Homo sapiens: one gene and its partner. The protein of the gene in region 1 binds, or shares a complex with, the protein of each later gene. Each region holds a gene or a part of one and is shown in the gene's direction. Other genes may lie near its edges.

Region 1 (14,818 bases):
TTTAGAGGGTTCCTGTCTCTACTACATAGGTTTCCTTGAGTATAAAGGAACCAAAAACATCCAAGTTATCTCTTCATTATTAGTAGGGGGCGACATAGGGTGAGGTCTGGAGATGAGGAAGTATAGCAATCTCTTAATAATCCTGCTTTGGTAATAATGAATATCAATGGAATTTCTCAACTTTATTGAAGGGACAGCTGGAGTTCAGACTTAAGGAGAAATGTCTTAAAAGGAAAAAGCGGCATGCTTGGTTTTGTATCTTGTTTGAAAATATATTTCAAACGTTCAGCAGAATTTTAGAGATCATAACCACCCTCTGCCCCCACCACCTTCTGAACCCTTAGTCCCCAGTAGTTCTGATTTACTTTTAAGATTCTTTTAGTTTTATGTTTTAACTGAAAAAAAAAAAAATCCTGCCCAGCCAGGTTTCCATCTGTCTGTATCACCGGGTTGAATTTAGTGTAGGAAAGCCTGTGCAAAGGGAATAAAAATGTAGCTTTTTTTCCATTGCCAGATTCAGGGGAACCAACCATTTGGAAACAAAGGAGTTCCATTTTGACTAGCAGCCTTTCTGCTTTCCATCAGTGGACAAAGTGAATGTACAGGTTTAAACATCATTTGGGGTCACCTCTAGATCCATGTTTGGAGGTAGATTGGTTTGTTAGTTATGATTCTGGCAGGAAACAGGTGACACATGCAAACAGATACATTAATTGAGGGACCATGGCCGAGCCATGCCAGGATGAAGGGAGACCAGCAGAGGCTAGCCACAGCGACAACCATGGAATCCCACAGGCCTGAGGAGGAGGGTGAGGGAGTGGTTACTGGGTCCACGAAAGGCTGTGGCTACAGTGTAGCTGTGAGAGAGGACAGCCCACAGGAGCTGTGGCCTTGTAGAGGGACACAGCCATGGCCAATGCATAGATCAGCAGAGAGGGAGCTGGGAGAATAAATATTCAAACTTCACCCTAGCTGTCCACCCCTAGATCTCTGGCTGGGGCTTCCCATTGGCTGAATCCAACGAGAAGCCAAAAGGCAAGGGTGATGTCCATAAATGTCAAACTTCTGGGTCTCAAGCAAAAGGGGGAGCAGTGGGGAAATGGTCTGCAGGGAGAAGAAGAGACTATTCAACACAGACGGGGAAGAAGAACTAAATAGGAAGGACTAGGGAAGGGGTGAAAGAGATTGCGGTGATGGTTTCAAGGGTGTAGACTTATCTCCAAGCACAACATGTTGTATATAATAAATAGGTATGGATTTTTGTATGACAGTCATACTTCAATGAAGGCTTTGTAAAAAAAAAAAAAATAGGGGCAGGAGAGCGAGGCAAACACTCGGTCTTCCATGAACTTTGCATTTGGGATTCTGTGCGTGGGGATGAGTGCCTGAGAGATGCTGTTTGGACTGCCATATTCCCAGGGCTTCCCCAGGATGGGTGATGAGTGGGGCTGCCCCCACCCTGGGGCCATACGCCAAACTGCCCGACCGCAAGAGCCCATGCTCAGAGCTGATATTGGTTGCTTCCTCCCGACCTTGGTGGGGCTATTTTCTAGGGAGTGGCAAGGACATAAGAATGAGAAGCCACACCAGCTTGGTGGAGAGCACTAGAGGGCTCACTGCGAAGTCCAGCAACTTTATTGTCAGCTCAGAGCATCTCCCCACCAGAATCTCAAGGAAGCGGAAGTACAAGTGGCTGTGAAGTTATCTGCGTGTTTATCTTATCTTCTGCTATTCATTTCAAGAGTTGGAGTTATTATTAATAAGAAGGCCTGGTTTCTGGCAGCTCTTCTCTTAGAATGGGTTTATGCCAAGCTGCCAGTTATCAGAGGATTCAGAGCCTAGGATTATGCTGACAGCGAGTCTCAGAGCTGTGATGGGAGGGCAAAGACACGGGAAACAACGTTGTATTAAAGAGGAATCAGCGTTTTGTGTCTAGTCCTTGATGCCCTTTTGGCTTCCTATTTCCGAAGAACAGCAAGGAAAATACAAGGAGAGACAGACTGGAATCCTGTGAATATCAGAGAAAAGCTTGATTTTCAAGAGACTGCTCAAGTTACAGAGATTCCCCAAATCTGAAGAAGTAATTAACTGATGAGTTCGCATACTTCATGCAGGGTGAACTCCAGCCGGTCTAGAAAAACACTGTGATGGTTGATGATTTACCATACTTTGCTTTCAACCAGTAATTGTCTCAGATTCTTAACCACTGATGGTTTTGGTGAATGTTTTGGAGAAAAGGCTCGAGAGAAACTTCATGACACTAAACATACTCTCTGAGAAGTGTGGTGCTAGAATGCTAAGGTGATGTCCTAGACTTCGCAGTCTCTTAAACATATCTGACATTATATTATGCTATGGCATGCTATGCTATGCTATGCTATGCTATGCTATGCTATGCTATGCTATGCTATGCTATGCTATGCTATGCTATGCTATGTTATGTCTTTTTAGGCAATAGCTCATCCCTCCCTAAAGCAGAGTGAATGCTCTTATTTAGCTTAAAGACAGTCATTGGACTTTGAGTAAAGAGTCATTTTCTTGTACGTTCCACTCCACCCTCCAGTGTACATTTGCACTCTGCTGGCGAATGACCATGAGCTATTAAATCATGACAAAGAAAAAGATGACAACTGTAATGTTGGGAGTGACCCCCAAGTCCCACCTACTGAAGGAACACCACAAGCCTTCCTCACTTTAAACCATGGCATGGGGGCACTATCACCAAGCATAAGAATGCCCAGCAATCGTCTGGGGCCATGTTGGGTGGGCAGAGAGGATGAGGCACTGAGTTCCTTCAGCCACGTCTTAACTGTGCCATGTCAGAGAGACTTTTCATGTTGATTGAACTGTGTCCAACTCATCTCTCAGCACCAATGCGAACTTATTAAACAGCTCTTCCTCTAATCTTTTTTCAACCATCTACTCATCAGCAGACTAGAAAGAAGACTGGCTCATTTCTTTTTCCTGTCAGCCACCAAAAGGGCCTGGGAGCTTTGATAAGGGCCTCGATGTGGAAGACCACATAGATATCAGCAAAACTGTGGAGGAAGAAGTGGTCTGCTTAAAACCTAAGAGGACAATACAGGTACTATTCCACCCACTGGGTGGTATTTCCAAATTCTGCACAGGGGGTTGTAGCTATGTAGATGAGGCTTAGAGAGAATTCACTGACCACCAGAACAAATATTCTCAGTTGCTTTCAATCTCTGCCAGCCAAGTCATGCTACAGACCACTGTCAGATGAAAAAAAAAAAAAAAAAGAAAGAAAATCAGAAAGAAAACTGAAGCACCAATGATAGCCATCTTGTGACTGTGACCAATTGCCTACTGAACAGTTCTTAATGTCCTGGGCCCCAGCAGGAAACCACTGAATCTATAAAGTCCTGTCCACCAGAAATGAGTCTGATTGTGGATGGCCTGGTTAACCCAGATTGCCTTCGGTGCCTGAGGGACTTGATATTTTCTCATTATGAAGACTTTCCCATCTAGTGAACGCTGCAAATAAAACTGCTCAGAATCGGTCTGAACTGCCTGTTTCCGTGGTAGCAGGCCTCTGTCTGGAGGATAAATCTGCACCATCTTCTTTTTTTTTTTTTTTTTTTTGGGTTTCAGCCAGTTGTGTTACAAGGAGTTCCGAAATGTGCTATAAGTGACACCCAACAAGATGGGCTCGGCCAGTTGGAGAGGGAAGCTTTGTCACCAAAGGGACTTGCACCCCTGGGCCAGACGGTGGTGTCCAAGAGAAAGTGATCAAAGAGATACAGAACCCGCATGCCTAAATATTTATTTCAGTTGTTCGTATTTCCCACACTTTTCAAATGTGAACTTGTGTCCTGAAGGTGGAGCTTTAGTACACAAGAAAATTGGGAAGGGGCAAACATGTTTGTACAAAATGGGGGTAGAATCAGCAAAGAATGCATTTATATGCTTCCTCGTCGCCTACGTTTTTCATGCCAAAAAGTTAGCACAGATTCTGATTTCTTTCACCGTAGGAGTCTGCATACAATTAAATGGGAGGCAAAAGAAGCCCACTCTTAAGAGTGGGGCTTATGGTCCCAGTAGAATGGCAGGGAACTGTAGCCATCAAAGCCATTTATACTTCTTGTGGGTAGTATTTTTAAGATGTTGTTTCTTTTTCAAAATGAAGCAGCAATGAACTGAGTAGTGATCAAAATGCCGCACCACAGAGTATGTTTAATCCAAATAGCTCCCAAGATGGTCTGTGACTGATTGTACCAACTCTACGGGACTTAGAGAAATGACTTGGTTACCAGTGAAGTAAAACTATCTCTGGAATGGAATTGAACTGTTGCTTCTCAGCACATAGCGACACTGCCACCGCTGGTTCACGGAGCCAGTGAAGGTCACTGAGTTCTGCATCAGTCACAGGGAAAACTGTCAAAACACCAGCGCATAAATCCCCTACTATGCTGTGGAGGGGGTCTCTGAGCTTCGGATGAGGTTTTTAAAATATTGATCTTCCCACTTCCAGAGGTGCAAAAATTCTGAAAGCATTCCAGGAGGGCAGGGAGTGGGGGAGCAAGGCCAGATATTTTGGAGCAGGTGAAACATCTGACTTGTCTTGCCTGAGATGTCCCGATTAACACCAACTGGGTACTTTAGGCCTTTCCCCTTCTTCCTCCCCTCTCCTTATGGACACTCCAACACCATCATCACAGCACAAAGGGCAACCTCATATCTCGTGGGAAGGCATTTTCTGCCTCCTGCCAGGCAAAGATAATGTTATCCAATTGCAAATGAAAGGCTTATGAATGAAAAGATGACCACTCTGACTTTAGTGTATGAGAGCCACTGCTGAAATGATAGGATCCTTGAACTTCACATCTAGAGCAGAAACTCACACTTCTCTTCTTCTCCCTCCACCTCACCCTTCTTTCCTTAAGCCTTCCAGAACTCCTGCCATATCCCTCAGCACTGGGGAGAACTTGAAGCACTGTTGGAGAAGTTTGAAACCTGCAACCTTCGGCAGGACTCAGCATGGGACAAAAGCCACCTCATTCCTTTCCCTTCCCAAAACAGCATCTCGAGCTGGGGAACTTGGAGGGAAGGAAGAAAGGGGATAGCAGCCAATTGCCCTCCCTGGGGCCTGGGGTCTGGAAATAGCCTGGGAAGGAACAGAGATCATTTCCCAACGATCCATAGAGGTCCTCAGCACCCTCCACTCCTATGCACCCCCTGGCTCATCTGCCAGACTGTAAGGGTGCTGATGGTGCCCGCAGCTGCCCCGGGAAGCTGGGAGGCATTTGTGCATCCTCTGGGAAGCCCCATTCCGAGAAATCATGAACCTATTCCCCAGTGGGCAATGATTCCCTGTGCTTCAGAAATTCTTGGCGGCTGTGGGGGCAACCCAGCTGTTATTCACCCTCTGGGTGAGGTGGTGAGACCTCAGGGGGTCCAAAGGATAAAAGTGGGTAATGATGAGACAGATGGAGAGCCTCGAGGGAAATACGGGGACTTGGGTCTAATAGTAGAAAGCAGGGCGGGGGCTGGTTGGTGCATTTAACTTGAGGAACTTTTCAGTCTCACTACAGAGAATGATCTCTGGGGGATTATGGCAATGGCCACAGGTGGCACTTAACTAGAGCCAGGTATGTAAGAGGCCCTGGGGCTAGATATGGATTCGAATCTCGGCTCTGATATCTACCAGCAGTAGAATGCCAGCACGTTCCACAACCTTTCTATAACCATTCTCCTGGACTACTAAGTAGGGATGACAATAACAGTCACTAATTAATAGGGCTGTTATGAGAATTATGAGTCTTAACCCATGTGGTGAGTTCACAAGCGCACCCGGCACGTAGTAAGTGCTCAGTAAATGTTAGCCCCGCTCATTAGGTTAGATGGTGAGCAGAACTTTCCAAGTGCTAGGCTTGAGAGCCTGGGACTCTGTTGCCAAGGGAGATTAGAGAACCTTTGCAAATATGGGCGCTCCGGCCCTGGGGATTGTCCAGAACGAGAGTGTGGCGCCTGCCTTTCTGCCACCTCACTCATCCGACCCGGGGAAACCCACACCCTGTCACAGGGGCGCCTTGGTCCCCGGAGTCTCCGGCTCGGCCATGTCTCCCGCGCGCCTCCCCGGGGCCTCCCTCTCGCCGCTCCACACCTGTCAGCCGCTCTCGCAGCAGCCCTGTGGCCCGAGCCCGGGGCCTCAGCTGCAACCCCTTCGCACCCTGGATCCTCGCTCCGCGCGCCTGGCGTATCCCCGACCCGGCTGCTGTCGTAAACAAAACCGGGCGTTGGAGCAGCACCGCGGGCGGACGGGCGCGGGAGCCCGCTCCGTGCGCCGTTAGCGCGCCCCGGGAGCCCCAGGCGAGCCAAGGGGGCGATGGTGGCGGCCGCGGCGGCCGCGGCGGGCGGCTGAGCTTTGTTATGAATAGATGAAAGAGGCCACCTACACAGTAACCCAAATTACGAGACCTCCCTCCTCCCTATCTCACCGAATCAAGAGGGGAGGGGAGATGGGCGTGGAGGGAGGGCGGGCGGGCGGGCAGGAGGCGGAGGGCGGAGGAGGAAGAGAGGATGAGGAAGGGGGCCAGTTGCATCCCACTTTCACAATGGGAAAGTGAAACGCACAAGCGCACCCAACCTCTCCAGCCCTCCCCGCCCGCCTCGCTCCTCTCCGCCCGTCCCCTCCCTTCCCCTCCGCGCCTCCCCGCGAGCGCCAGCGCTGCACACAGGAACTCTCCGGCGAAGGAGGGCGAGGAGGAAACGGTGCCGGAGCGCGCAGGGCTTGCTGCCGCCACCGCCGCTGCACAGGCTGCCGGAGCGAGCCTGCCGCGCGCCGCCCTCCCCGCTCTCCTTCCTGGGCGAGCTGCGGGGATGGGGCGGCCGCGGGAGCCCGAGCGCGCGCAGGAACCGCCGCCGCCGCCGCCCGCGTCTCCGTTGCCGCGCGCCTGAGCCGCCGTCGCCGCCGCGCGCCCTGCCCGGGGGCGGCCCCCCCAGCCCCATGGAGGTCTCCCGGAGGAAGGCGCCGCCGCGCCCCCCGCGCCCCGCAGCGCCACTGCCCCTGCTCGCCTATCTGCTGGCACTGGCGGCTCCCGGCCGGGGCGCGGACGAGCCCGTGTGGCGGTCGGAGCAAGCCATCGGAGCCATCGCGGCGAGCCAGGAGGACGGCGTGTTTGTGGCGAGCGGCAGCTGCCTGGACCAGCTGGACTACAGCCTGGAGCACAGCCTCTCGCGCCTGTACCGGGACCAAGCGGGCAACTGCACAGAGCCGGTCTCGCTGGCGCCCCCCGCGCGGCCCCGGCCCGGGAGCAGCTTCAGCAAGCTGCTGCTGCCCTACCGCGAGGGGGCGGCCGGCCTCGGGGGGCTGCTGCTCACCGGCTGGACCTTCGACCGGGGCGCCTGCGAGGTGCGGCCCCTGGGCAACCTGAGCCGCAACTCCCTGCGCAACGGCACCGAGGTGGTGTCGTGCCACCCGCAGGGCTCGACGGCCGGCGTGGTGTACCGCGCGGGCCGGAACAACCGCTGGTACCTGGCGGTGGCCGCCACCTACGTGCTGCCTGAGCCGGAGACGGCGAGCCGCTGCAACCCCGCGGCATCCGACCACGACACGGCCATCGCGCTCAAGGACACGGAGGGGCGCAGCCTGGCCACGCAGGAGCTGGGGCGCCTCAAGCTGTGCGAGGGCGCGGGCAGCCTGCACTTCGTGGACGCCTTTCTCTGGAACGGCAGCATCTACTTCCCCTACTACCCCTACAACTACACGAGCGGCGCTGCCACCGGCTGGCCCAGCATGGCGCGCATCGCGCAGAGCACCGAGGTGCTGTTCCAGGGCCAGGCATCCCTCGACTGCGGCCACGGCCACCCCGACGGCCGCCGCCTGCTCCTCTCCTCCAGCCTAGTGGAGGCCCTGGACGTCTGGGCGGGAGTGTTCAGCGCGGCCGCTGGAGAGGGCCAGGAGCGGCGCTCCCCCACCACCACGGCGCTCTGCCTCTTCAGAATGAGTGAGATCCAGGCGCGCGCCAAGAGGGTCAGCTGGGACTTCAAGACGGCCGAGAGCCACTGCGTAAGTCCTGCCCCCGGGGCGCCGCGGAGAGCGCTGCTGCCGGGGAGCCGCCGCCGCCGCCGAGGCAGAACGAGCTGGGGGCGAGCGGCGGGGCGGGGGTACAGCCGGGTGACATTTACCAGGTCTCAGGTTCACACCGCGGGCGGCCGTCCGAAGGCTCCTCTCGGACGGTCCCCGAGACCTGGAGCACGGCCTGAGGTCCCCAAAGGGAGAGTGTAAAAAGGGGGGCGGGGAGGGTTGGAGTTAGACTCAAAACTCTAGTGGCTGCATCCCATTGCCATCCTTCCCTGTCCAAACGGGGACGCTTGTTTGGGGCTGAGTCTCCTCGCGCAGCCCCTCTTTCCCATTCGCTTCTCCAGACTTCTCTGTGCCCCTTCCGTGTAGTCCCAGCAGGCGTGTGGGTCTGACCCTCTTGGTCAACAGTTAGCAACACAGTGCCCTCGGCAGAGAAGCCATTGAACCTAAAGGGCTCCCTGCCACACCCCAGCCTTTGTGGCCCCCTGTCTCCGCCCCCCACCGGCAACGCAAGTGCTGTGGTCTGAAGAGTTGCTAGCCCGCTCAGCGTGGAGAAATGCCAGCCTGCAACAGAGGCTTGCGCTGGAACCGAACCCCTGGCGTGAGCCGGTGCGAGGGGGCGGTGCCGTGGCTCTGCTCAGGGTGCGCTGTGGTCGCCAGCCGCCGGGAGAGGCTGGGCGGGAGGTGGCCTTGTGGTAAAAGCCTCATCCTAGAGGGGAGTGCAAGGGAAAGTGTTGGGGGTGCTACAGGCAGTTTCTGGGCTCCAGATTGCGAGACTAGATGGCGGGACTCAGAGTCACCACCCTGGGGCTGAACCAGGCAAGCGATACAGGTTTCCCCTGGGCTCCCAGGGCAGCCACAGCTTTTATCTTGAGATTGGCATTTCTTTGACTGGAAAATAAAGAGGCAGTTCAAGAGGGTCCAGTTGATGGGGATTATGGAGCCATTGTGCACTTCTCCGGAGGCCGTTTCCCTTCCAAGGCGGCTGGCACATCAACTCCACATATGGCTCCTGAGAGGGGAGCCTGCTGGGAGCCTCCTTTATAACTGGACAAAAATCAAAGCGCAGAAATTAACGGCTACAGGTGTTGCCATTGTTTTGGTACAAAATGAATCAGAGAGGAAGGGGAGAAGTCACTGCTTGGAAAATGTGTTGATACAGGGGCACGTTGGCTCCCAGGTATATTAATATGTGTATAGAAAGACAGCTTCCCCCACCCCCTTCTTTCTCTGCAAAGCACATCTTACCAAATATTAGCCCTATGAGCCAGGGAGAAAAAAACCAGGAGGTCTTTTGCAAGGCTTCTTAGAACGGTCACTTGCTGCTGCTTCTTTGCCTGTCAAGCTGTGTGCTGGGACACACACATTAAGGCCTTCATTTTGTTACTGGTATAATTTTTAAAAATATGTAAAAACACATATTTGCCTCCTAAATGACTTGCTGTTGCCGTACACATATAATGTAATATTTGATTCCTGTCTTTATTAGATCTTTATAATCTAACGGTTTAAGTTTGGTAAAATTATCGTTTCCTACTTCTCTGTTGAAAGACTTGAAAGTACCCCCGAAATATTACTTTGTGTCAAGCTTTAGACACACTTAGTCTCTGGGGTTAATGACAAGCCAGCTCAGAGGCCCACAGCAGGTAATGAGGGTGAAAGTCCAAGCTTTGCCATCTGACAGCTGTGTCGATGTGTGGAGCCAAAACATTTCTCTTGACTGCGTCTCTCTACCTATTGGGTCCTGGAAGACTCAGTTCCCTTCCAAACCCAGCCAGCATCTTGAATGCACTCAAAATCCACGTTTTGGCTCAATCAGGTGTTCCTGCTTGTGCCGGGATGGGGAGGGGCAGTGGCAGAGGAAGTCGCGGAGCTTCTGCGAGAGAGCTGCCCCTTGGAAATCAAGCAAAGGATAAACACATGCTGCCAAAAATCTGGAACTGGAAAAATAAATAATTAAAATGGGTCCCTCCACAGCATTTCTTGCTGCTATTTATCAAGAACTCCCAGTGTGCTCAGAGCTGTGTGTTCTGAAAGACAGGGTCTGTACCCCCTGAGCTTGTCAGCCAAGTTAAATAATATACTCTGGTTCAAACAATAGCATGTCATGGCTGCACAGGTGGGAGCTTGGAGCTTTGCATTTTTTTTTCATTTAAGTAAATTCCTTGCTGCTAGTATGCATTGAAAAGCCTTAATGGAATTGAATTTCAAGAGGAGTTTGAATGAAAAAGGGTGGTAGTTTTGATGAAAAAGCTGACAATTTTCTAACCTATTAAATAGGTAGAGAAGATACTCAATTCAACAAATATTTGTTTGATGCCTGCTAGTGTAAGCAATGCTCTGTGCTGGGTGCCACTGATTTTGCCACTGAAAGGACGATAGCAGATTGCAACCTTGTGTAATGGGGTCATGGGATCAGTGTGCCCCTGGCTGTCACTCAGAAGAATGATGTCATTTGATTGCATTTGTTCTGCATTTTATTTTCAGGTCTTGAATGTGTTTTTGAAAAGGCATGCTGAATTATAGGTGCCTAAAACAGGAGCAGGACTTGAAACACTCTAGAGGGAACCTCAATAGATTCCAACAGCAATTCCTTTAGAGCAGACACAGTAATTTTAACAGTAATCCACAGGCTGCAAGGCACAAGCGGCTGGATTTGCTTGCCTTCTTTCTCCCTCTCCTCCTAGCTGGCTCTTATTTTCCGTCTTCAATCAGCCATAGGTAGAAAAGTGACAGGACTGACTGGGTTGTATTTTCCCACTTTCTGGTTCTCTTATCTCTTGTCACTGATCCTCCTCTCCTTCAGCTTCTGCTAAGCAGTGATTTACGAGATGCTTGTGTAATGAGTGTGTACTCAGCTGTTTACACACTGGACCATTACTTTTTCTGCCTTGCCACCAACTTTGAATCCACTTTCATAACTGTAGCAGGTTAACTGCAGCTCTCAAATGTGCTAAGGCAACCGATTTCTGTAGACCCTCTCTCTAATAATCTTCTGTGATATTTGTACAGCACTTCCACATGTATTATTTCTTTTGAGCCCCGCATCAAGTCTGAGGTTGATTCTATGGGGATGATTTCATTTTCCAGATGAGGAGGCTAAAGATCCGTTAAGCAGCTTGCTCAAGATAGTTAAGTGCCAAAGCCCTCCACCTTAAATCCAGGTCTTCCAATGTCTACATCTCTACTCTTCCCACCACCCCAGGGTTTCTCGAACTTTCCCTTGAAGGTCCCCTAATTAAATTGGCAGCAAACAACCTCCCCTAGGATGTGGGGTTGAGGCTAGAGGGTAACCTCAGAAGGCAGTACATGCCTCTAATCTTGGCTTGTGTTTTAGAACTTCATGTGGTCTCTTTCCTTTTTTTCATTCTTTTTTATAACACACCTGTGCTTGGATTAGTATAAAAATGAATGTTTTTAATTATGCACAAGTTAATCAATTTGACTTCCTACCTTTCTGAACTCTCACTACCCCTGGCACACCAACGTGATACACAGAAAGTGTTTGTGTTCGAGTTTGTGGAGTCTGATTGCTCCAGACTTGTTTGGCCACCATTGTTGGGTTCTGGGGTCACTCGTGGTTTAAACATGGCAGCCACCCCTCGGTAGACATTGAGGGTAGTACGTTTTCCTGCAGTATTGGTCCACAGGACTCTAGATCATTCTAGTTTGTTCTCTAGTTCATTCTACCCTTTGTAGGGGGACATACCGCCTTCTTCCACGCCTACATAATTCTAAAGCCTGACATAATTTAACTGTCATGCAGACAACCACAGAATGCTCACATGCTGCCCAACAGAGAGCAACCCAAGGAACATGTGTGGAGAAGTGACATCCCAGTTCCACTTGGCGATGCAGCCTATTGACCTCAAAATCCGCAGTCTTCTTGTGATGTTTATTTCTCTTCCAGCTTCTGTTATGATTTTGTCAAGCCATTTTGCAGTCTATAGACTAGATGGTGATTTTACCCTCATATACACATATTATATGCAAAAATGGATTCAAAAAGGACAATTGCCATGACAGCACCCACTTAGAAAGAGGGGAAAGCAATCATAGCTACTATCTACTGAATAGTTATTATGGCCAGGTTTTGTGTGAAGCAATTTACATGCCTTATTTTCTGTTGATTCTCATTCACCATATGGGGCAAGGACTGTAGTTATCATGATGATTAGAGATGAGAAAATTAAGGCCCAGAGAGCTTCTGTTAGGTTCCATAGCTGGAAAATAGCAGAGGATTTAGAACCTGGGTGGTCCAGCTCTACGACCTGAGCTTTTAGCCACCTTACAAGTCTATATTAAGGAGCCCTACCCTATTACTATTAATAATCATGATGGTGATGATAGTAAAGACATCCAAAGCACACGGCATTTTCTATGGGTCAAGTAGTGCTTATTCTATACACATTAACTCATGAATCCAGAGAATATTGCTGTCAAGGAAATGGGATTCCCCACTTATAAATAAAGAAACCAAAGCACGAAGGGTTAAATAATTACTACATGCAATAATGTGTACATGTCCACTGCCATGGACAGTCTGTCAGCATGGACATTAGGTCCTGATGTCAACCCTAACCTGTATGGAGCAAGCTAAGCCCTTGCAACTGCTATGCTAAGACCAGCTTTTTGTGGACACAGGCATAGGATAGCAGAGAATCCTTAGTTATGAGCTGAGTTTCTAGGTTTGCATTGGTGACCACCTGAAGTTCTGACTCTGGCAGGATTGTAGTTTCTTAACTGTGAACTTCTAGACAGTGTTGGTGTTCTGATCTATACATCATCTCAAAGGGTGTTCTCTGTTGAACCCCCCATACCTAGCATAGTACCCAGTATGTAGTTGGGACTTCAGAAATATTTGTTGAATGAATAAATGAAGGATCGTAGAGAATCATGTTGGAAATGTTTTCTCTACTCAGCAGCAACACTTTCTGGGAGTCTGGTCACCTCATACTCCCTTAATCATTGTCTTTTTCTTAATGCCTGATGTGTCAGGGCCCCTTCCTTCCTTAGTTTTAGGTTACATGGTGTCCTTTACTCCTTCACCTCTTCCCAGGTACTTCCATTCATTGGAATACCAGGCTTCTGGTGTTGCCAATCTGAGAGTTACTTTTGACCATGGAAACCTAGCATGGTTGGAACTTCTATGGTGTAATTTTTGATTGCCTTTCAACTATGAGAGGAAAGGGCTTTATGCTGTAGGCAGTGGTCCTTAAAGTGTGGACTGTGGCCCAGCAGCATGAATATCACCTGGGAACTTGCTAGAAATGCACATTCTTGGACCCTACACCAGACTTACTAAATCAGAAGCTCTGGAGGTTGGGGTGGGACTGGCAATCTGTATTTTAGCAAGCTCTCAACGTGATTTGAAGTCATGCTTAGGTTTAAGAACCACTATTGTAAGATAAAACAATTTTCCTTGTGTTCCAACTGAGGCACCTAGGATAGGAACTTGTCGCATTTTTTTTCCCCTTGCATTTTACTTAGGGCCATAAAAAGTAACCAACACATTTTACCACCTGATATTCCTTATTCCCTCCTCACTGATCAAAGGCAGTACCTAGAAAGCCCTTTAAAGACTTGCCATTTTTGGGCTTAGAGTCTGAGTCTCAAAAACCTGTAAGCCATAGTTTAATTAGCTCCTTCACTCTTGCATATAACAGTTTATTTGTATTTCACTCCCAGATGTGGGGGGATGTCTAGAGTCGTCTATTGTGCTGTACGCCAGAACCAATTCCGCACACCAGACATTCTCTCCAAGGGTCCATTCTTTACAACATCAGTCCTGTTACCAATTTCTATCCTAGTCATGTACAGTTGGTTGCATGGAATAAAGATCTACTTGAGTAAGGTCAGATAAAGGGATGAGGGATATTGTGGACAGAAACACATGGAATTACATGGTAATCTAGGAATAAAAGCAATGCTGTGTTATGGTTATGTGCACAGTCACTGGAACCAGGTCAATTGGGACCAAAGCTACCAGTTACCAGTTGTGGGACTGTAGACAAATTATTCAACCTTTCTGTGCCTCAGTTTCTTATCTATAAATAGTGATCCTCTTGGTTTCATAGGATTATTGTCTGGATTCACGAGTTAATAAGTATAGAATGAATACTACTAACTACTTAACTCATAGTAAATGTTATGTCTGTGTTTACTATCATCACCATCATTACTACTAATAGTGTTAGGACGGGCTCCTTGATATGCAGTTGGAAGGTGGTTCCACATTCAAGGCAGCTTAAAGGAGCTCAGTCAGCATCAGCAAATGATGGATGCTCCTTCCTTAGTCTCCCTGTTAACATGACTTAGCCTGGCTGCTTTGCACCATCCTCCTACCAAATAACCTCCTCTGCTTCCTCAAACATCTACTCCCTCCCACCTGAGTATGCCTCAGGCCTGCCTTGATCCCCACTGTCTATCTTTTTTTTTTTTTTTCTTGAAACAGGGTCTCATTCTGTTGCCCAGGCTAGAGTGCAGTGGCACAATCTCGGCTCACTGCAACTACCTCCTCCTGGATTCAAGCGATTCTCCTGCCTCAGCCTCCTGAGTAGCTGGGACCACAGGCGGGTGCTATCACGCCCAGCTAATTGGAATAAAATCATTTCTTAAACAATATGGTTCCTGGAGGAGAGACACTGGAAACTTTCTTTCTTTTTTTTTTTTTTTTTTAAACAGAGTCTCACCCTGTCACCTAGACTGGAGTGCAGTGGCATGATCATAGCTTATTGCGGCCTCAAACTCTTGGGTTCAAGTGATCCTCCCACC
Region 2 (15,791 bases), on another chromosome or scaffold:
GGCTGTGGCGCTCACAGGAGAGGGGGCTAACGTGGGCTAGGGGTGGGGGTGTGAGGGTGAGGGAAAGCTTCATGGAGAAAGTGGCACTACGCTGAGACCTGAAGGGTAAGGGAGAATTGGGCACGAAGGTATATGTACTGAGGGGGCTGGGAGTGGGGAGCAAACCTGGCTTTTGTAGCCCTGTTTGTCAGGGTGGCTTGCAAGGCAAGTGGGTGGGCAGAGGCTAGATCATTTGAAGCTATGTAAGGAATTTAGACTTACCCTGGACAATGGGAGTCACAGAATGGCAATCGGGAGAGAGTCCAATGTGTGTTTTAGAAAGGTCATTCTGGCTGCTGTGTGGTGAGTATAGTGGGAGTAGAAGACTGAGGGAGGGCAGGCATGAGGAAGCCGGGGAGGAGGCTGTGGCAGTGATCCACTTAGAGCTGCTGGTAGGCTGACCTGACGGCGTGGCAGTGGGGAAGGAGAGGAGGAGGTAGAGAGGCTTTAGGAGTTAGAATTGATACCAGATCTTTGGGAAAGGCGAGTATACTGTTGTCTCCACTGAACAGATGGGGACACCAAGGTTCCAAGGGTTGAAATCATCTGCCCACAGTCTCATGGGCAGGAAGTGGACAAGTGGTCCCAGAAACTCAGGTCTGTCTTACTCCAGAGCTGGTGCCCTTCCTCCCACTGCCCTTGGCCTCTGAAGTGTGGAGGAATGGGAGATGATGAGGGCTTAGATCCGGCTGAGGAGCTAGGGCTTTATCCTGAGGGCAAAGAGCACCCCTGAGGCAGCTGCAGGCAGGGCAGTGGGGGACCAGATCTGTGTGTGAGATAATCTGACAGCTGTGTGGAGGCTGGATTTGTGGGAAGTGAGATGGGGTAGGCGACCAGCTAGGAGGCTGGCTGGATCCTCCAGATGGGACATGGAGGGGGCCTCAACTGGAGCTGCTGCAGGGGAGCTGGGTGGAGGGGAGCTGCTAGGTGTGAAGGACAGACTAGCTCTGGGGGCTGAAAGTGGGGAGGCAGGCAGGATGTGAGCAGGCGGATGGTGGTGCAGCAGTAAGAATAAGGGACTGGGGTGACAATTTGGAATGAGGTGCCATAGGACAGCCAGGTGGGGATGTGTATAATTAAAGACAGTTGGATGTCTTTGGGCTGAGGTAGTGATCAGGAAGTTCTAAGTTGAACACTGGGCCTGTGTCATGTGAGAAGGCAATTAAGCTTTTCAGAGAAAGGTAGAGGAAAAGGGATACCCACTAAGGAGTTCAGCTTTATAGAAAATGGTGACTGATAGATGTGAGGCATGGAACGGGCGCAGGATCTGCTGCTTCTGGGAAGGTGAGAGCAGGAGTCAGCAAAGCTGAGGGAGTGAAAGGACCTGGACAAAGAGGGCATGCTCAGTGGGGTCAGATGCCACAGACAAACCTAGTAACAGAAGGGCTGACCTTGGACTTGTTGACTTGTGCCTTGGTGACCTTGGGGAGACATTCCAATGGAACCGGAGCCAGATAGCAGGGGTTGAGGACTGAATAGGTGAGGGGCAGTGGATGCAGAGAGGGCAGGGGACCTTGCTTGTGAGGGAGAGGATAGTAGTTAGAGGAGAGATGGGATTGAGTGTGAGTTTTTGCAGTTCAGCAGAGGTGAAGTTGGAAGTGATCACAAGAACTTTTCTAGGAAGCTGAGGGAAAAAAAGGAAAAGACCCCAAAATAGAATATGCAAATATGTAGAGATGGGTGAGTTTTCTAACAGATCCGTTCTCCTGATATAACTCAAATTTGGCTGGGCTGGTATGGGCTGGGCTGGCACAGCTTGCTGGGCACATGGGCCCCAGATCTGCTCCTCGCCTCAGTCCCATCTGGCCTGGGCCCCAGACCAAGCTCACAGAGCCCTACCCTGAGGTGGCTTCTTGTTGCTGTTGCCACAGACTTTGGCCCTGGGTGTTTGTTGAGGATGTTGGGGAGTTTATTCAGGCCTCCCTCTTTCTGCTTACCCAGCCTCTCCAGCAGGTGGGGTCCCCTCTGGCCCTGGGCTGGGCTCAGGTCAGTTCAGCTGTGCCCCTAGTTCCTCTGGGCCTGGGCCTGTCTCGTTCTCATAGGCTCTGAGATCGCTGGGAATAGAATTCAACTTCTATGCTAGAAATGCTTTCGTGGCAACCCAGGCACTGGCCTACTCTATCTTGGCAAAACTAGCTAATATTAATAGTACATTACACAGCACAGTAGTGCTTATTTATCAAGCATCCTCTCTGTGCCAGGCATTGAGCTAGGCACTCACATGTGCCATCTTAGTTAATCCTCATAGCGACTCTGAAAACTAGATATTATTAGCCCCATGTACAGAGGAGTGCTTCCTGTATGCTGGGGAAGTGGCCTTTCTAGGGCTTGGGTGGGATTGTGTCAGCATGATTCCATCAGTGCACCCACCTGGGGCCTTGTGCCTGGCTGGCCGAAGGGTCTCCTAACCACTTACCTTTGGAGTGGCAGCTCAGGTCTTGGAGGGGACTTAGGCTTCTAAGTCAGATTGAGGTTTAGATTGCTTTTCCACATATGACCTAACTTCTTGGAGCGTCAGTTGTGCCTTGTTTGACGTTTTCCCTCAATTTCTATAAGTGGATATTGAGTATGTGTATCAGAGATGCCAGGCACTCAGAGCTGGGCCAGTGAATGTTCTAGATGGCATCAGGGCCCAGACAATGAAGTAACCCTAACAAGGACAGAAGCAAAGAAAGTCTAAGGTCCTGCAGTGGGGACCAGAAATTTTTTTTTTTTTTTTGAGACAGAGTTTCACTCTGTCACCCAGGCTGGAGTGCAGTGGTGCAATCTCGGCTCACGGCAACCTCTGCCTCCCGGGTTCACACCATTCTCCTGCCTCAGCCTCCTGAGTAGCTGGGACTACAGGTGCCCGCCACCACGCCCAGCTAATTTTTTGTATTTTCAGTAGAGATGGGGTTTCACCGTGTTAGCCAGGATGGTCTCGATCTCCTGACCTCGTGATCCGCCCACCTCGGCCTCCCAAAGTGCTGGGATTACAGGCATGAGCCACCGCGCCCGGCCAAGGGGGACCAGAAAATTAATTGCTCTTATGCAGAATCGAGTCTCATTTCTTCTCCTGGGCCCAGATTCAATAATCTTTCTCAAATGAGCATCCCAGAGAGCCACTACTGATGGTTGAGAATTGGCCCAGGGATAACCCTGGGCTGAGATCAAGAGGATTTAACAACGTGTTGTCTCAACCCATTAAGAGTGCCTTTAGAGGTGCTAGAATAAGGAGGAAGGAAGCTAGTCTTTCAGCCCTTTACTGCTCAGCCTCCACACTAGGTGTTGTGTTCTGATCTGAGGCCTGATCTTTGAAAGAGAGAGACACAATCTGGACTGTTTAGCACCTAGGAGGGGTCAGTAAAAGTTTGCTAAATGACGGACTGATCGTGTCTTAGAAATCAACCAGGATTAGAGAGCCTCTCAAGGAAAGCCCCATGAGGGATCTATTTGAAACTGGAGTTATTTACCCTGAATAAAGAGCCGATTTAGAAGGATGTGACCTCTGTGAAATCACTGAAGGGCCGTATTCCAGGAAGAGAGATTAGACATGTCCTTGTTGCCTCAGAGGGCAGATTTAGGACCACTGTTTGGGAGTCTTCCACTGGGGAAGAAAGCTCTGTGTCAGAGCTAAACAAGATGGGCAACGCTGGCTTGTGAGGGAGCTCATCATCACTGGAGGTATGTAAGCAGAACCTGCATGGCCACCATAAGGAGTCTTGTGAGTGGCTCTCAGGTAGGACTGAATCCCCTTTGACAGCTACTCCTAACTCCAGGAATTGAGATTCTTGGATCATTATATTCATGAAAGAAAGTGAACTGTTTGTGGGTAACCACCCTTTTGCATGTGTATCTCCTCACTGAAGTGGCCTCAGCAGGCCCAAGGATCACATCAGAGCTGGGAGGGTCCTGGGACATCTTCTCTCCTATAGACATCACTTTATTTTTATTTTATTTTAGTTTAGTTTAGTTTAGAGATGGAGTTTTGCTCTTGTTGCCCAGGCTGGAGTACAATGGTGCACTCTCGGCTCACTGTAACCTCCACCTCCTAGGTCAGGTGATTCTCCTGCCTCAGCCTCCTGAGTAACTGGGATTACAGGCACACAACACCATCCTCAGCTAATTTTTATATTTTTAGTAGGGACGGGGTTTCACCATGTTGGCCAGGCTGGTCTTGAATTTCTGACCTCAGGTGATCCACCTGCCTCGGCCTCCCAAAGTGCTGGGATTATAGGCGTGAGCCACCATGCCTGGCCGACATCATTTAAAAGCATATTTAATTCATCCTATAGAAGGAAATGCAGAAGATGGAATGAGAAAGCTTTGTCTCTCTCTGATACAGAGAGAAGATAGACCAGGAGAAGAGATGGAGTTTTAGCTCTTCTTTCTCATTTTGTACACAAAGAAACAGAGGCCTGGACTGGGTCAGGGCCTTGCTTGAGTCAGTATCCAGGCTGAGACTTCATCTTTGGCCTCCCAGCCATGTCTAGTCAGGAGATTTTGTTAGTCTAGATGGATTCTATGTGACATCCATGAGATTCTGCCCTGCCTCAGGCTTTGGACAGTGAGAATAGAGGCTCAGAGATGGATTAGGGGCATAGGAATGGGAGGGAGAAGTTTGTCTCCAGAAAGTCTGGGGAGTGTCTATCACAGAAAAGTGCATGTAGAATGTATGACTAGAACAGAGAGCAGAGATGCACTTGGTCTTTGCTAAGACTCGGCTCTGTTCCAGAGTGGCCACCAGGTGGCACTCCCACCACAAGCCCAGTGCCACGTTGGCCAAGTTTGGGGCTTGGGGCTAAGGATGTTGCTGATTTGTCTGTGGAAGGCACAGGACCTGTAGTGTTTTCAGGTGAGCTGAGTGCCCTGCTAGAAGGAAAAAAAATCTGTCTCTTCTCTGCTGACTGAATATTCCTCTTTGGATTTTTCCTTTGTCTTACTTAACTTGGCTGGCCCTACTTAGATCTTAGCAATTTAGGTAGGGTTGATCAGATAAAAATGCACGTAGAATGATTAGGATAGAAAGCAGAGATGTAGGCATGGGATGCTGCTGGGAGCACGACCCTCAGGGCTAAGAAGGTGGTGGCAGTTCTGAGAAGTTCTCCATTCACAGTGGGCTGAACTGATGTATGGAAGGTGGTGATCTCTGAACTGGTCTAGGAGGAAGAGGCAGGCACTTGAGGGGAATGTCCTGGCTGAGGTTTGGAGGCAGGCAGAGCACTGAGGGGAGGGTGAGGCATGGCCTGGGCAGCCTGAGAAGTGTCTTCTTGGCACTCCTTGCCTGACATGGTCTGCCAAGAGTTGGGCCAGGTATAGTGACTGTCGTGCCTGTGCCTGTGAGATAGTCACAGTGGGCACATGGTATGTTGGGGGTCCCAGATATGGGCCCCAGACCTGTTTTTATTTGCCCATATCCATCCTCCTTAACTTTTGAATTATTTGCCAATATTTTAAAAGAGAGAGTTTCAACAAAGAGTCAATTTTCTTTTCTTTTTTTTGATGGAGTCTCGCCCTGTCACCCAGGCTGGAGTGCAATGGCGCAATCTCAGCTCACTGCAACCTCCACCTCCCAGGTTCAAGTGATTCTCCTGCCTCAGCCTCCCAAGTAGCTGGGATTACAGTTGCGTGCCACCATGCCCGGCTAATGTTTACATTTTTAGTAGAAATGGGGTTTCACCATTTTGGCCAGGCTGGTCTCGAACTCCTGACCTTGTCAGATAAAAATGCATGTAGAATGATTAGGACAGAAATCATTGACCTTGTGATCCACCCACCTCGGTCTCCCAAAGTTCTGGGATTACAGCCGTGAGCCACCACCCCTGGCCTCTTTTTTCTTTTCTTTTCTTTTTTTTTTTTTTGAGACAGAGTTTCACTCTTGTGTCCCATGCTGGAGTGCAGTGGTGCGATCTTGGTTCACTGCAACCTCCGCCTCCTGGGTTTAAGTGATTTTCCTGCCTCAGCCTCCCAAGTAGCTGGAATTACAGGCGCTCGCTACCATGCCCGGCTAATTTTTGTATTTTTTAGTAGAGATGGGGTTTCACCATATTGTGCAGGCTGATCTTGAACTCCTGACCTCAGGTGATCCACCTGCCTTGGCCTCCCAAAGTGCTGGGATTACAGGCATGAGCCACCGTGCCCAGCCCTCAATTTTCAGCTTCTCTTGAAAATCATACTACCTTTCACTACTGGGTTTACTTCTTCATGGTTCCATGGGCTGGAGCTGAGTCGAAATTGCCTTATAGACAGCACAGGGTTCTGCAGACCCCAGCCCACCCACTCCCCTCGTTCTCATCAGTTCCAAGTCTCTGCCCCCTGCAATAGGTAGTAATGGTGGTAGGCAATAGGAATTGTTGCTGCTGTTAGTAGCCAGGAGGTCTGAATGGCCACCAAGCTCTGAGGCCTCAAAGAAGGGGTGGGATCTAGCATGGAGGGGGCTGTTGGGGATTGAATGCCCTCTGAGAGCTACTTCTAATCCTAAGAATTGGGATTCTTGGATCATCGTATCTGTGAAAGGAAGTGAACTGTGTGTGGGTGACCTCACGTCTGCATATGTTATCTCCTCACGGAATCCTTCTATCTCCCACAGGCCTCTTGTTTGAGGTGGGTCACTCCTGTGAAGGCCATGTGTAGCCATGGAATCAGGGCTGAGGAGGAGGTCAGATAACTCTGGAGAATGGAAGGATGAGTTAAGTTGGACCCTGAAAGGTGAGAGGCTTTAGTTGGAATGTTGGGGGGATTGCCCGGGGCTTCTGCCACTGCTTCAAGACCATGAATCTCAGGTCTGTGTGTATCCATTTCTTTCATTCCAAAAGGAGCCTTCTTGGATTGGGCTGTGCCTCAGCTGTCCATGGGGCTCAGGAAGTGATCCTTCTCAAGGTATTTTTCTTATCGATAGAAGCCCTGCATCATTTCTTCCTCCCTCCCCTGAATGTGGAATCATGGAGAAGGGAGGGACAAGAATGTGCCTCCCCATCAGACGTGTCAGCATCCACATGTGTTGCTTCCTCTGCTGGTCCACTTCCCATCACTGGCTGTGAGTGGGAATTGTGCCCCTGTTCTTGGTCCAGGCTCAAGAGCCAGCCTTGGCCTCCAATGAGGCAGGCAGGCCTCTGACACCACCTATACCATTCTGACTTGATTTTCCTATGCTGCCTGAGGCAGGAAAGTCCATGCCTAAACTCTGGTCATAGTGCCTGCCCCACAGTCTAGCTGCCTTTCCCTTTATAAAGTTATTGCCTCAAGTCATGGGCTTAGTTCTCTCCTCCCCTGGCTGCCTGCAGCCAACCGAGAGAGTGGGCTGCCATCTCGCCTGGCCCTTTGTCCCCAGGTTGGCTGGCTTGTGGGGAGGATGGTCTTAAGTACTACTTCCTTCCCCCCTACCCCCCAGTCTGGAAAAAAAATTATCTGGCATCTACCCCAGTTTCCATCTGCTACTCTGTTGATTGGGAGATTGAGCCCATTCCCTGGTCTGCCCTCCTACTCAGCACCTGGTGACCTGGGCCCTATCTAGGTCCTTCTGGGGATGGTTTGGACCCAGACTTCAGCCACAGACAGGAGGCAGCAGTGCCAGGGTACATCACACAGAGAGAAGTCAAGGGTGTGGGTCCTTGAGAAACCACCTGAGTTTCAATCCGTCCTGCCTCTAGTTGTGCGATCCTGGCACTTCACATCCCTTGTCTGTGCCTTGATTTCTTCATTTGTAAAGGGAGGTGACTAATAGCTCCTATCTCATAGGAGTGCGAAGATTGAATGAGTTGGGAGAGGCTATGAGATGGCACAGCACATAGGAACCACAGTGTTAGCAATTGTTATTGCAGTCAGAAAACCCATCTTCGTTCTACCATTTACCGGTTGACCTCGGGCAGGTCCGTCCTTGTCCCTCCCTGTACCTCAGTTTTCTTCTCTGCAGTGGAGTTACGCTCCCTCCCTCAGTGAGAGGAAGAGAGTGGAGGACTGGCAGAGATGAGGTAGGTGAATGTGGGTTATGTGTTGTGAGTTGCCATGCACATGGGCAGTGTTATCATTGATTTTGAATCCATTTGAATTCTTAGTTCCAAAAGGCAGAGACAGGTGATTTCTTAGTTTGCCCTAGCTTTGCATAGAGAGGACAGACACTGAGGGCAATACCTGTCTAGCAGGTGAAACCGAATGTCCATCTTAGAGGCTGGCCTGGGCCAGGCTCCACTGCTGGCTTCAGGGCCACAGGCTTAGGTGCAGGCCTGAGGAGGAGCTCTTAGACTGTCCACAGCCTCCCTCTCTGGGGCAGTGTGCCCCTGTGTATCAGGAGGCTGTTGGCTTCACCCAGTGGGCCAGGAACCTCACTCTGCACTGTCTCTGGAGGTACCTTGAGTTTACCTTCCTGGCCTGCTGGGGTGCCTCAGGACTCTGAGGGAAGAAGGAGGGGACAACTGGAAGCAAAATGTAGAATGGTAAAGCCAAACTTCTTGGTAGCAAAACTTTCCTGGTTCCAGGAGGTAAAAACAACAACCAAATGGTCCTGGCCCCATGGAGCAGGGCAGAGGGCAGAGGGCAGCCAGCCCACCGCCTTTGCTGGTGTCTGCAGTGCGTGAATCGTGTCTAGGTCTGTGAGTTCTGAAGGTTGGATGTTCACCTCTACTCCTTCCTCGGCCTGTCTCCTCTCAGTGCAGCTAGACATCCAGTAAACACTAGATAAGTACTTACTGAGCTGGGTGGATTTTCCATTCATGGTTCCCTGGGGCACAAGTGGAAGTGGTAGGTCTGGGCCCTGTCTGGTCTAGAGAGAGGAGACCCTTTTACAAAGGGCAGGCACGTAGTTCTGAGAGGAGGAGCTGATGGCAGAGCTGGCTGGACTGCTCAGGTAACTGCAGAGGGTCTGGGCCTGGACCCCCCAAGGGAGTCCCCACTGAATGGTCAGGTTGCCTGAGATAGCTGAGCCCTAGGCACTTTGCGGGCAGAGATCCCCTTAAGCTGCTTTGACCCTCCCTCCCCCACAGTGAGTGGGGCACGGGGGATGCTCCCCTCTCTACTTGGGGAAGGGGCCTTCCTAATTATATCCCCCTCCACTCACATGGAAATGAGTTTGGATTTTCTGAGCGTACACCAGCTGGCTTGGGGGGAGGCAGCCCAGAAGGCTGCTGGCTGGGAAAGGGAGGAGAAAGGAGAGGGAGGGGAAGGAGCCAGGCCAAGATGAAAAATTTCCAGTGTTCTCCCAGGCAAAGCAACAGCGGGTCCCTGAGTGCTCCCCACATATCATCGTTGTGCCTGCTGGTAGGCTCAGCAGGGAGCCGTGTCCACTTAGGCGAACGCATCCTCCGAGGACCATAGTCCTCAGGGTGCGAACCACTTAGCTGGCCATAGCAAGGTTGTTGGGTGTTGGACTCCTCTGCGCCCTTGGAGAGAGGTCCTCCACGACTTCTACGCCAATCTTTTTACGGGGTGCGGGGAGTGGAACTGAGGCCCAGAGAGGGGATAGGGCCTGCCGCCCCTGGCAGAAGACCACAAGTCTGGCTTGTCCGCAGCTGGGCTTTCCCCGTAGAGTTGCCCGGGAGAGGGTGGCGAAGGTTCCCCCAGCAGTTCCGCTCTCGCTCAGGAAAGCCAGTGAGGCGAGAAAAGGCTGCGAGGGGCGGGGGGAGGGGCGGGGTGGGGTCAGCGCTGGCTCCGCCTCCTGGCGCTTGGGTCTGCCTGCGGCCGGGCGCTGGCTCAGTCTCGGCTGATTGCCGCTGTCGCTCCCGGGGCCACGGGATGACGCCTCCTCCGCCCGGACGTGCCGCCCCCAGCGCACCGCGCGCCCGCGTCCCTGGCCCGCCGGCTCGGTTGGGGCTTCCGCTGCGGCTGCGGCTGCTGCTGCTGCTCTGGGCGGCCGCCGCCTCCGCCCAGGGCCACCTAAGGAGCGGACCCCGCATCTTCGCCGTCTGGAAAGGTAGGCGGCGCCGCGCGGCCGGTCAGGCGCGGGATCAGACGCTGCGCGGGGCGGGTGCGGAGTGTGCTGCACCCGGAGGGAGTGCGTGCGCGCAGCTCTGCGGGTCCCGGGCTGTCCCCGCGCTGTCCCCGCGTGGAGCGTGTGGGTTTGGGTGAGTGTGTGTGAGTGTACACGCTGGCACACCAGAGCCGGCTGTAACGCTGCGGCGAGCGAGCGGCGGGGGCCGGAGCCCCGGCTAAGTCGCACCAAGTCCCTGGCAGCCAGGAGCCGCAACGCCCGGGCGCCAGGGGAGGGGGCGGGCCCCTCTCTCGGCCCCGAGCCACTCTGGGTCCTCTGGCTCGGGGGCTTCGGCGGAGGACCTTTCCCCGCCTGGGACCCCAACCCGGGTACCCTCCTTTTGAGCTGCGGGCTCTGCTGGCGCGCGGGGCGCAGGCTGGGCCGGCAAGGGGGGCGCGGACCCCTTGCCGCCGCCGCCGCGCTTCGGCAGCGGGAACAAAGACCCCGCCGCCTGCCCCCGCCCCCGCCCCGGCCCGGAGCTCGGGCCAGGCAAGGGGGTGGGCATCCTGCAGCGAGCGGCGGGACATGGTGCGGTGCGGCGGCTTGGGGTACCAGGGCGCTGCCTCAGCAATGCCGGGACCGGCCGCTCCCCCCTTGCCCGCACGTGGCAGTTGTCACCAGAAATCGGCTCCAGCGTTGGGGGGCAGTGCCCGTTGGGTGGGGCACGGCCGTTGGGACCCCCAGGCGGTGGATCTAGGGCGGGGGTGCAGCCTTTAGGCCAGGGTAGATAATAAGAACCTGGGGGACTGGAGTCTCCCCCAGGGCACCTCAGTTTAGACCCTGTACTATGGGACAGAAAGCCGGTTAGGCGGGGGTTTGAGGCTTTCTGCCGCGAGGAACTGATCTCCCCTCCCCTGCATTGCACACAAATGCCTCCCCGCCCCCAGTCCGATTCGGCTCTGTCCCCAAATTTGGCGTGTCTGCGGCCCCCCTGTCGTGATGGTGGGGGACTCGCAGTGGGGGCTGGGGGAACTGGTCGGGTCTGGCCCCACCGGGAGCCTTTTGATGCCTTTGGCAGTTTGCAGGGATTGCGGGAGTCTGAGCATTATCTGGGGCAGGTATTATTAGCAGAGGGGAAAAAAAACCATACACAAAACGAGTGGCCCGAACTGCCGCAGTAGCTGAGGGAATGTGACTTGCCCAAGGTCACTGAGCAGTGTGGGAGCCCAGGTGCAGGCAGGGGCTCTGATCTGGCACAGGACCAGTCCAGGTTCTGGGTTAGGGAGGGGAGAAGGATTTAGGTGGTTCAGGGACCATGAATGAGGTGCTCTGGGGACCAGCTCGGCTACCCAGCCTGAGGTGCTCCTGGAGGAAGCCGAGCAGTGCTGCTAGAGCTCCGGCCGCCTGTACATGGAGGAGGCCTGCACACCCCTCTGCCATCCCAGCTCCAGCCCAAGCTTCCTTTGCCCTCCCAGCAGCTTTGCCTTCCCTCAGTCTCCTTGGCTGTCTTGGACATCATAGCGTGTGGGCACTCTGGAGGGGACAAATGGCCACATCTGAGTGTTCTGGAATCTTTCCCTCCATCAAACCCCTTGCATTTTGACTCTGTTTGCCTGTCCCAAAGTCTTCCCATGACCCCCCACCCCCACCCCACTTAATGCACACCCACTTCTTAGCACTTAATGCATACATCCCATCCTGGGCACTTAGTTCCCACCCTGAGGCTATTTAAAGTTGCTTTCAGTCCTCTTACCCACTTTTCGAAGCTCCCAGCACAGCTCCATGGCCTACCCCCCCGCCCGCAGTTCACTGCTGTAGCCACACTGGCTGTGCCCTCTGCTTAGTAATGCACTGTTGAGCCCCGCTGGCTGGGGTCTGCCAACCGTTCACCAGTCTTGTCCAACGACAGTCTGTGGTCTCCTTCACCAGTGCCAGGTGCCCCACTGGCCAGACAGGCCCTGCCATTCACCTGCCCCCCACCCCCAGGGCCACCAGCTGGTGATGGTGTGCCCGACTGACAGCTGCCTCCTGTCTCCTGTGGGGTGACACATGGCAATCGGACAGGAATGGGCTTGGGTAGGACAAACCCAGGAACAGGGTAAGAGGGGGTCTTTCTGGAAGCCTAGAGCTCTGTCTACCAGTGGTGGGTGGGAGTATGGTGGTATCCAGGAATGACAAAATCAGGGATGGTGGTGGTTCTGGAGCCATTTCTCTATGAGGCATAGATGGGGGTTTTAGTTTTGAGTCAGGACAGCTGTGGGGACTGGAATAGGTATGGAAAGTTCTTTATTTTCTGCTGCTTGGATCCCCAAGTTCTAGAGAAAGATTAAAGCAGGGAACTCTGAGAGGGGCCCAGCCTGCACTGATCAGGGAGATTGCTGCCTCTGCAGCTTGATGAAAGTCTGGCACAGCGTAGCTCAGGCCAGGGAGAGAGATGGGCCATCATGTACCTGCTGGGTGTCCTTGAGCTCCACACTTGTCTTTGACCCTTAGAGCCTGCCAGAGCAAGAAAGGCTGTAGGGATTGTCCCCCAAGGGCTGTCACTGACACATGGGCCAGTCAAGGATGTGCATGTGTGGTCCTGATCTTCCTGTAAGCAGGAACTGTAAGGGAGTAGATTGCAGGTGAGGGCTGGGGCTTAGCAGGAGGTTGGCATGCGTTTGTAAGCTGTGCACCCCTCTTCCATTTTATCAGTGGTTGGAGGAGCTAAAGAAGGCTTGGAACCCCAAGGTCAGAGGTGAACCAGCCTGTCCATGGGGAAACAGAACCCATATCCCCAGTCTCAACCTGCCCGGCTGGTTCTGCCCTCCCTCGCTTTTGTCCAGTGAAACAACGGGATGTTATTGTTGACTTGGTGGCTGCTGGGGAGCCATTCTGGGGCTGCTCCCCAGGGCAGGAGGTTGTTGTTACCTCCTCCAGGGGATGAGGTCACATCTGGGGCTTCCCAAGCATCAGCATTTCCAGTGGAAATCCTTGCCCCCTTGGGGACTTAGATGTGTTCATCACCTTCAAGGTGAACTCCCTCCACAGAGTCTCATGGTGGGGGGGCAATTCCCCGGAGGAGAGGGGGAGTTTCCTAAGCCAAGAGAGATGCTTGGTGAGGTCACCAGGAGCTTCCTACCAAGCTCTGTGACCCCTCTGTCCTGGACAGTGAAGATTCTGAGAGCAGGTCCGGTGGAATGGACGCTGGCACAGGTCCAATGATGACCATGGTATAGGGGAGAGAGCTGGGAGGTCGGGAGCCTGGTTCAGGCTGTGACCTAATTTGCTCTGTGACTGGGCAAGTCTTTGCCTTTTACTGAACCCCAGTTTCCCCAAATGCCCAAAGAGGGTAGGGGAGGGGGCTCATCCTTTTCTGAGATTTAATGTCTTAGGATTTCTCTCTCTCTGGGATGGGAGGGGCTGGGCAGAGTCTGTGGTGGCCTGTTTAAATCTTAGATTTCGAGAAATCTGGAGGAGAAATTGAAACCTGGGAAGTCAGGGGAAACCCTTAAGTTCGCGTTCTTTCCTATCTTTTTCTCTCGTGGGCCAAAGGCTGAGGATCATTTGGAGGAAATGGATCATCAGCATGTGCCCTCAAGGGTGGACATATTCATTCAGCAAACATTTGCCGGGGCCACCCTTGTGCTGGTCTTGGGGATGAGCTTGGGGATCTGGTGATGAGGAACAAGATGATTCCGTGCCCTTGTAGACTTCTCAGTGTAGATGTAGATGGGCAGATAAACCTGCAGGTACAACAGAATGTGTAACAGAGAGCAGTTATGGGCACTGAGGAGATGCCTAACCCAATTTTCCCAATCAGGGAGGGCTTCCTGGAAGAGGGAGCAAGCTGAAATGGCAGGAGGAGGAGCCAGCTGGGGGAGGGAAGGAACAGGAGGAAGCACCCCACTTAGTAGGATTTTAAACCCAAGAACTTACAGCTAGGACCACAGAGAGGAGAGAAGCCATGTGAGGGGCCCCCATGTGAAGAGGCGTTGAGTCAGCCTGGGCCTGGGGGCTCCCGAAAAGTTTGAAACTTGTCCAGATGGGCATAGGTGAGGGGATACCTGTCATCCTATGACTGGCGCAGCAGTGAGGAGGAAGGACGCACCCACTGGAGAAGGGCCGTGGCAGGCAGGGAAGGCCTCTCGAGTGCTGGCAAGGCCATAGCCCCGTCACAGTTCCCTGGTGGGAGGCTGGCTCTGGGTCCAGGGAGACCATGGCTTTCCCCATTGACTCCTGACCGCAGGACAGTCTCCAGGTGAGAAGGTCTGTCCCTCAGCTCTGTCTTCTCCTGCTCTTCCTCTGCAGAGATGGAAGGAGCATGGAGGTGGCAGGGTGGGGGTGGCATGGATAGGTCACTATCTGGGCTGAGGGTGGCGCCCTGGGGGAAGCAGGGAAAGCTGGGCTCTGTTTTTTGAGGAGGGCCAAGCAAGGTGGGATGTGAAGCTCAGCCCAGGGGGCAGGTCTGGCAGCCCTCAGGGGGCAGTAGCTGGAGTAGATGGGCCACTAGCTGATAGCCTGTCCACCCCCAGCTTCACACGGCTCTGTCACAAGAGACTGACTGCACTTCCCCTGCTTTGGTCGGCAGCTCTGGACTGAAAAGTTTCCACTTCTCTTGATTTCCTTTTTTGGCCCAGCGTGGCTGCCCCAGGAGCCTTCCTTCGCCATGGTTGGGGGAGGAAGGGGCCCTTAACCTGTCCTGCCTTCAGAAGAGCCAGGGTTCCGTACCCTTGCAGGGAGGGCCAGCCACCAGGTGTATGGCCAGCTGTCCTGTCCTCAGGGAACCAGGCAGGCCAGAAAGAAAGCAGGGGGATGGAGGGCCACGGCACCTTGTTGGGCCCTGCCTCCTCAGAGGACAGAGTTCCCCCTTCCCTAGCCAGCCAGGCCTTGAGGGACTGTCCCCTCTCTGCCCCGAATGGTATGGGGTGGCTCTCCAAGCCCTTTATTCTCCCTGGCCCTGGCCTTGCCATCTCTCCAGATCTGTGCCCAGCCTCCCGGAGGACCTCTGTCCCTATGCTGCACCCCATCCAGAACACATGGCACACAGCTGCCGCCTTCCCCAGGCCCTGCATGGTGGCCTGGCCCCACTGCCTCCTAGACTCCCACAGTTCTTCCCTCACTGCTCCCTGGCTCCGCCTCCTCTCTGCACCCCACTCACCCTCCTCCTCCTTTCTGCCCAGAAAGGAGGCTGCTGGTTCTTTCTCAGTTCCTCTGAGGAACCTTCTTGGATGACCCCAACCCACACAGCCTGACAGCGCGAGCTTAGGATGTCAGAAAAGAAATGTCAGAGATTAGCTGGGCCAGCCAAACATTCCACAGATGGGGAAACTGAGGCTCAGAGATGACAGGGACTGGCCCGAGATCACCCAAAGAGGCAGAGCTGGGACCGGGGCTGAGTCGTCTGAGCCTGCTTCTGCCCCAGCTCTCAGCCTGTTTCCAGCTTTCTGTCTGCCATCATACTCTGTCCCAGGCTGGGGGCCCCTTCAGTGCCTTTCCTCCTCTGCTAGCCCAGTTGGGCCCAGACTCTTCCCGCCCCAGTGCTGTCTGTTCCCAGGAGCCACACCAGCTGTGAGTGTCCTCTCTTCAGGACCTTGGATTTGGACCAGCTCCATATACCTCTTCTGGTCTTTCCTCAGGTGGGTTGGGCCTCAGGTCCCAAGGACAGGTTGATCTGTGTCCCGGCTCGGGCTAATCAGGTTTTAACTGTCATGACAGCCTGGGATTATGCTGATCCTGCCATGCCTTCTGCACCCCATGCTTCCAGCCAGAGGCTTGGGCTCTGTGCCAGCACCCCTGGGTGACCCCTCATCATGGAGGGCAGCCAGCCTAGGTCTGTGTTCGGCTCCTCTGGGGGAGAGGCAGGAAGAGAAGCCCTGGGTTTGCCCTTGGG

Evidence for each region.
Region 2: the proteins of PLXNC1 (region 1) and SEMA7A are in contact, whole or in part, in a crystal structure (PDB 3NVQ), measured with the Homo sapiens proteins. Residues at the interface, in NP_005752.1 of Homo sapiens: Arg131 (codon at 7,358), Thr151 (codon at 7,418), Glu152 (codon at 7,421), Val153 (codon at 7,424), Asn195 (codon at 7,550), Pro196 (codon at 7,553), Ala197 (codon at 7,556), Ala198 (codon at 7,559), Ser199 (codon at 7,562), Asp200 (codon at 7,565), His201 (codon at 7,568), Thr203 (codon at 7,574), Ala206 (codon at 7,583), Lys208 (codon at 7,589), Arg213 (codon at 7,604), Ser214 (codon at 7,607), Leu215 (codon at 7,610), Ala216 (codon at 7,613), Thr217 (codon at 7,616), Gln218 (codon at 7,619), Glu219 (codon at 7,622), Leu220 (codon at 7,625), Arg222 (codon at 7,631), Lys224 (codon at 7,637), Glu272 (codon at 7,781), Ala350 (codon at 8,015), Ser352 (codon at 8,021), His353 (codon at 8,024); in NP_003603.1 of Homo sapiens: Gln194, Tyr196, Asn197, Gly198, Lys199, Arg202, Arg204, Tyr213, Ser215, Asp216, Thr217, Gln270, Gly271, Gly272, Glu273, Ser274, Ser275, Leu276, Val278, Ser279, Lys280, Pro372, Thr375, Glu376, Phe378, Gln379, Asp382, Arg383.

Annotation. Positions count from the first base shown.
Region 1 is NC_000012.12:94,142,005-94,156,822, forward strand, and holds the start of PLXNC1 (plexin-C1 precursor), read left to right. Parts: upstream 1-6,572; 5' UTR 6,573-6,967; coding exon 6,968-8,029; intron 8,030-14,818.
Region 2 is NC_000015.10:74,427,872-74,443,662, reverse strand, and holds the start of SEMA7A (semaphorin-7A isoform 1 preproprotein), read left to right. Parts: upstream 1-9,704; 5' UTR 9,705-9,744; coding exon 9,745-9,922; intron 9,923-9,958; exon of another isoform or gene 9,959-10,073; intron 10,074-15,791. UniProt on the Homo sapiens protein: Plays an important role in integrin-mediated signaling and functions both in regulating cell migration and immune responses.